Linked DNA regions of Homo sapiens. The protein of the gene in region 1 interacts with the protein of each later gene in a pairwise test. Each region holds a gene or a part of one and is shown in the gene's direction. Other genes may lie near its edges.

Region 1 (3,500 bases):
TGTACAGTCTCATCATGTCTTCAATTATATGCAAATTGTATGCCTTTGGAAATGACTAAATATCTAATGTCTTGTGTCTAGGTGGATTTCTCTGCATGATGGCTTTGCAGTTGAGATTAGGGTGAGAGGTAGAGCACTAGGGAGGTCCACCTACCTGACTACCCTTGAAGAGTAATTAGGCCATTCAGTTAGAGGACCACGTCTGTGGGTGCAGTGCTGTAGAAGAACCCATATAAACAGGGAGCATGTTCAGAGAAAGGCCTTGTGGCATTGGAGAGCTCAAACTTCATCATATGGGAATAAATGGCCTAGAAAGAAATGTGATTAACCCAGAGCACGGAGGTTTTAGGGAGGGATAGCTGAAAGATGCATTTGATGGGTTTTCCTAAGGAAGAGAGTGATTAACCTCCTCTCTGTGGTTCCAGTGGGGAGCAAGTTCAGCATTACGCTTATTCTTTGCCACAGGCAACAATCCTGATGTCACAGCAAAAAGAGATCCTGAGAGTTCAGTTCAAACCTTTGCCAGTGCATGACTGCTCCCAACACTCAAGACAAGTGGCTCCCTGCCGGCCTGTTCCTGATCATGCCACACCTTTCCCAGTTGAGGCAGGGCCTTTATACCTCTAGGTCCCCTTGCCCAGAATGCTCTGCCCCAAGGCCCTCCCATGTCACAGCAAAAAGAGACATGGATAAGGACCAAAATGAATGTAAGTTACAAGGAACTAGATTTCAGTCCAACTTTACAAGAACCTTTTTAACAGAGAGGTCCAAAACTGGGATGGTTTTCCTCAAGAGCTTCCATTCAGCAGATAGCTGTATATTTGTGTTTATTTGGCACCCAGTATGAATTGAGAATAGAGTGCTGAGCAAAGCAAAGGCCCTGTTTTCACTCAGCTTCCCTTCTCCTAAGGAAAGACAGGCAGCAAACATGAACATAAATGAATGGGCTAATTTCAGGTGACTGTACAGTGTTGTGAGGAAAGTAAAACTGGGTAAAGTTTAGTGATTAGTGGTGGGATACTCCTCAAGTTTAGATGGTCAGGGAGAGACTTGTGAGGAGGTGCCATTTCAGCCGATACCCAAATATCAAGGAGCCAGCCATGGGAGTGCCTTGGAGCAGAGCATTCTGGGCAAGGGGACCTAGAGGTATAAAGGCCCTGCCTCAGCTGGGAAGGACGTGGCATGATCAGGAACAGGCCAGTGGGTAGCCATTTGTCTTGAGTGTTGGGGGCAGTCATATATTGGCGAAGGTTTGAACTGAACTCCCAGGATCCCTTTTTGCTGTGACATCAGTATTGATGCCTGTGACAAAGAGTAAGCGTAATGCTGAACTTGCTCCTGGTGTAGACCCTAGGAGCCCTGGAAAGGGAGGAAGTAACACTTCCCAAGGGAAAGGTCTTTTTTTTTTTTTTTTTTGAGATGGAGTTTCGCTCTTGTTGCCCGGGCTGGAGTGCAATGGCGTGATCTTGGCTCACTGCAACCTCCATCTCCCGGGTTCAAGCAATTCTCCCACCTCAGCCTCCCAGTGGGAGGCTGGGATTACAGGTGTGCACCACCACGCCTGGCTAATTTTGTATTTTTAGTAGACTGGGTTTCACCACGTTTGTCAGTTGGGTCTCAAACTCCTGACCTCACTCAAGTGATCCACCCACCTTGGCCTCCCAAAGTTCTGGGATTACAGGCATGAGCCACTGTGCCCCATTGGGAAAGGTCTTTAGGGTATGAAATTTGGCCTTTATGACTTCTTGTTGTTCAGGCTGATTTTAATTTGGGAGTTCTGAATGGCCTGCTTGGTCTATGTGTGCTGTTACCTGGGGAATTTCATGCCAGGGGGTTTGGAGTCAGACTATAGAGTAATGGCTAGAACAGTGCCTGTCTCAAGTCGGAAGGTGGAAGCAACAGTGGCCTTTGTGTTTCTGTGTCAACCCTGTCCAGTTGACAGAAGCTGCAGAAATACAGAGCTCTCTGGCCAGGTGTGATGGTTCACGTCTGTAATCCCAGCAGTTTGGGAGGCCAAGGCGGGCTCATCACGAGGTCAGGAGTTTGAGACCAGCCTGGCCAACATGGTGAAACCCTGTCTCTACTAAAAATACAAAATTAGCCAGGCATGGTGGCGCATGCCTGTAATCCCAGCTACTTGGGAGGCTGAGACAGGAGAATCTTGAACCCAGGAAGTGGAGATTGCAGTGAGCCAAGATCATGCCTTTGCACTCCAGCCTGGGTGACAGAGCGAGACTCCGTCTCAAAAAAAAAAAAAAAAAAGAAAGAAAGAAATATAGAGCTCTTTCTTGCCAGGTTCAAAAGGGGTTACTCCAGGGGCTTACTTCCCTTTTCAGTCCCTAGAGCAATTGAGCCTCAGGGAAAAAATGGGTAGGAAATGAAGGGGTAAGGGAAAGGGAAAGAGAGAATTTATGCAATGTGGTAGGATGTATTTATTAGTTATTTCAGGACCTTGTTTTGTCATCCAAGTCATAGGCTGCTCAGGTCCCCCTGACAAAGGCCACTGCTGCATCCCTAGTCACATGTGGCCCTCATGGAAGCGTTCAGCTCTCCAGGCTCCGTTCTCCTTTTGAGGTGTGCTGCTCCACCTCCAGTGGCTGGCTGTTATTTCACTCCATTTTGGTTCTATTCTGTTGAACTGTTTTAATTTTTTTTCCTTTTCTACCTAGGCATTTGGTTGCCAAGCTCCAGCTTTGAAGAACCAAATTAAGCTACCATGAAAAGAAGAGGAAAAGTGAGGGAACAGGAAGGTTGGGATTCTCTGTGCAGAGACTTTGGTTCCCCACGCAGCCCTGGGGCTTGGAAGAAGCACATGACCGTACTCTGCGTGGGGCTCCACCTCACACCCACCCCTGGGCATCTTAGGACTGGAGGGGCTCCTTGGAAAACTGGAAGAAGTCTCAACACTGTTTCTTTTTCAGAAGTTTTGTTTTTGATATTTATATTACTTGGTATGGAAAACTCACCTTGAAGGCAGTTGGGGTTTGTGCCCGTTGGATTGAAAGTGGTGCGAAGGGTGAGCAGGTCCAAAGAAGGGGTGGGAGGAGGGAACAGGGGACGGCCATTCAGCTGGTGCCAAAGGCAGAGTTAGAGTCTGTGCTGTGGGCCTGGAAGATGGGAGGAGGGGCTTGAGGTTTGCAAAGGACTGGGAGTTCCTGAGGAAGGGGGAATCTGCCTCTTGTTGCCATGGGCAGCTGTTGTAGGAGCAGGAGAGAAAGGAGGGTGGGTGGTCTCGAAAAGAATATTGGGCAAAACCTAGCCAATTGGCCTTAGCTGGGAGAAGTAGTGACTCCTGCATCCTTTTTTAAGGTTTAGGAACCTGAGTTCAGAAACACCTCTCATGGAAGCTGTACTAGTTGTGATTTACTTAATTCCTTAAGTTCCATGACCTGAAGTTAACCCCGTTCTTCCTCTGCTCTCAACCCATTGCCCCTTGAGATAACTGTACATGTCACTCTGATCATGGTAACAGCATCCCTATTGCTTCTGCCAGCTGTCAT
Region 2 (3,500 bases), on another chromosome or scaffold:
AGAGGATGAACTAGAGCTGAGAAAAGGGGAGATGTTTTTAGTGTTTGAGCGCTGCCAGGATGGCTGGTTCAAAGGGACATCCATGCATACCAGCAAGATAGGGGTTTTCCCTGGCAATTATGTGGCACCAGTCACAAGGTATGGTTTTGAATACATTGTTTACTATGTTCTAAACAGAGAAGCTTTGTTCTTTTCCATGGTTTTCAGCCTATCCAGATTCCTTTCACATTATAATTGCCTGTTACATAGCCAAGGTTTTAAAAATCCATGTCTACATCTGCTAAAATCCCTTCTAACTCTAAAATTTTTAGCTTATTTTCACATGGATATATGTGAAATTATAGGTTTCTACCAGTAAATGTACTGGGTTTTAAGTTATTTGCTTTAATGGGAGAAGGTTCAACAACACCATTTTCAGTATTTTTCTACTAGAAAAGGCATAGTGTTGATACAAAGAAAAGCTATATTATTAATACTTATGTGTTTATATAATGCGTACTATATGCCAGGCAGGCAGATTTATAAATGCATTACACTGATTAACCTTACTTCTTAGTTGCTGTTACATTGAGGCACAGAGATATCATACAGCTTGTCTGAGATCACATAGTGAAGAAGTGCTCAAACTCAAACCCTGGTGATCTAGATTTATATTTATTTCATTAACTTGGTAATTACCTCTGAATTCTGACAATGAATTCTATAATATAGTCAGAAATAAAAATTTTAAGTATAGCATAGATCCTTCTCAACTGAGGGCAGTTTTGCTCCCCAGGGAACATTTGACAATATCCAGAAATATTTTTGATTGTCACGACTAGAGGTTAGGGGTGCTACTGGCTTTAGTGGATAGAGGCTAAGAGTGAAACATCCTATGCATAGGACAGCCTCCCACAAAAAATAATCATAATCTGGCCTAAAATGTCACTGAGGTTGAGAAACCCTGTTATAGAGTGACAGGAGCTTTAGATATGCAAAATTTTATATATTTTATGTAAAGATAGTTCAGCTTTTGGTCACTGAGGAAAGAAGCCTTGGAAACAGTTAAATGACCTGTAATGAAATCAACACTGAGGGAGCCCTAGTTTTTGACCACCGGCCGTTTAATATACAGTCCAGGTCTAACTGCATTAAATCTTTCCTCAAACCGCCTGATTTTAAACAAATAGCTTAATGAACTGACATGTTTGTCAGCTGTTGGCCTTGATTTATAGGTTGGCCAGCAGCCTAATCAAATGAAAATCACTGTTGTTGCAGATGGTGACAGAATGTTAACTTTAATTTGACTTGCAAATTTTTAATCAATATAAACATTCTTTTCTATGTATGTTAAAATCTACATTCAGAATCCATCCCATCCAGAAAATGACAGATAGAACCTCCCTGGTGCAAAATAATGATAATAATGGATAAGAGAAATGCAACAAAGAACAAAAAAATAAAGTTAATGAAGGAAAACATTTTTATAAAAATTTTTTTGTCAAACATCTTTATCAAAAACCAATTATTAGAAGTCTCTCTGCTTGTATAGCCGGGTGCAGTGGCTCACGCCTGTAATCCCAGCACTTCAGGAGGCCAAGGTGGGCAGATCACTTGAGGTCAGGAGTTGATCACTTGAGGCCTGACCAACATGGTGAAACCCCATCTCTACTAAAAAAAAAAAAAAAAAAAAAAAAAATACAAAAATTAGCCAGGCATGGTGGCACGTGCCTGTAGACCCAGCTACTTTGGAGGTTGAGGCAGGATAATCACTTGAACCTGGGAGGCGGAGGCTGCAGTGAGCCGAGATCATGCCACTGCACTCCAGCCTGGGCGGCAGAGCAAGACTCCATCCTAAGGAAAAAAAAAATCTATCTGTTTGTTTAACTCTAGAGGAATATGTGCTTACAGTAAATTCTGTCATTCATGGTAAATAATAAGGATGTTCAAGCTAATGAAGTGTTTTCTTAGTAGAAAGTTACTATATACAGAATTGTTATCATTTAAATGAATTTGGAATATGGAAAAAAACACATTACACAAAACTATACTGAACTTAATTACATTCAGTGAGTAAATAGATGTTTAGAGTTGGCTGTAACCCTGAGCATGTGCAAATACAGGATGAATACAGGAGAGTTATTTCACACTGGCCCTGCTTTCAAGGAACTTACCAAGTCAGCAGTATTTGATAAAGAATTTATTTAAAAAATAATACACCAGCTAGGCGCGTTGGCTCAAACCTGTAATCCCAGCACTTTGGGAGGCTGAGGCGGGTGGATCACCTGAGGTCAGGAGTTCGAGACCAGCCTGGCCAACATGGTGAAACCCCACCTCTACTAAAAATACAAAAAAGTAGCCGGGCATGGTGGCGCGTGCCTGTACTCCCAGCTACTCGGGAGGCTTAGACAGGAGAATCACTTGAACCTGAGAGGCAGAGGGGTGAGCTGAGATCGCACCACTCCACTCCAGCCTGGGCAACAGTGAGACTCTGTCTCAAAAAAAATACTACTACTACTAATAATAATATACCACATTTTGTAATCAAGGGCCAAAGCATAAACAATTGTGGAGTTTAGAAACAGAATGAAAGAAGAAATCCACATGAAACAATAGAATCATAAGATCTTAAACCTGAATCTGAGGCAAGGCTTCTTGAACTGACAGTGTTCATGCTGGATCTTGAAACATAAATGAGATTACAATATGTCAAGAGAAGACGGAGAGGACTTTCCACTAGTGCGTGTATGTGTGTGCATGCATGTACATGGGCACATGTGTGATGTGGAGCTGGAGGCAAGTAGGAAGCCAGGAAACAGGAGCAAAGATATGGAAATGGGGATATTGTCAGGGAATGATCCTAGCTTGTTCTGTAGATGAAGGGGGAGAATCCAGGGCCTTGAAAGTCAGTGGAGATATTTGGTCTTGTTATGGAAAGCTGAATGCAATAACTGTATATTCTTGAGCAGAGTATGACGTGTGGTTTCTGGTGACTCAGAATATATTTCAAGACCTTTCTCTGTCTCAGCCATCATTACGTTGAATTTTCTATTCTTAAACTTTATAAAAATAATTCCATTCATTTTTTAAAATGTTCTATGTTTAAAGCTCTGAGTCATTTTTCTTGCATTTAATTGTTCTTTCTGTCATTTTGCTGATGGACTGGGCTTTCCATCTATGTTTGTGTCTTGGCAGGGCGGTGACAAATGCTTCCCAAGCTAAAGTCCCTATGTCTACAGCTGGCCAGACAAGTCGGGGAGTGACCATGGTCAGTCCTTCCACGGCAGGAGGGCCTGCCCAGAAGCTCCAGGGAAATGGCGTGGCTGGGAGTCCCAGTGTTGTCCCCGCAGCTGTGGTATCAGCAGCTCACATCCAGACAAGTCCTCAGGCTAAGGTCTTGTTGCACATGACGGGGCAAATGACAGTCAACCAGGCCCGCAATGCTGTGAGGACAGGTAAGGAGGAACCCAGGCCAGAACATATCAGGATAAAGGGCTTACCTGCCTAATAGTAGATCTTTT

The links. Proteins that work in one complex are often made in the same cells at the same time.
Region 2: the proteins of SOCS7 (region 1) and SH3RF1 interact in a two-hybrid assay, tested with the Homo sapiens proteins (one large-scale study listed by BioGRID).

Annotation. Positions count from the first base shown.
Region 1 is NC_000017.11:38,396,844-38,400,343, forward strand, and holds part of SOCS7 (suppressor of cytokine signaling 7), read left to right. Parts: intron 1-2,669; 3' UTR 2,670-3,500. UniProt on the Homo sapiens protein: Substrate-recognition component of a cullin-5-RING E3 ubiquitin-protein ligase complex (ECS complex, also named CRL5 complex), which mediates the ubiquitination and subsequent proteasomal degradation of target proteins, such as DAB1 and IRS1.
Region 2 is NC_000004.12:169,117,457-169,120,956, reverse strand, and holds part of SH3RF1 (E3 ubiquitin-protein ligase SH3RF1), read left to right. Parts: coding exon 1-138; intron 139-3,174; coding exon 3,175-3,434; intron 3,435-3,500. UniProt on the Homo sapiens protein: Has E3 ubiquitin-protein ligase activity. In the absence of an external substrate, it can catalyze self-ubiquitination. Stimulates ubiquitination of potassium channel KCNJ1, enhancing it's dynamin-dependent and clathrin-independent endocytosis.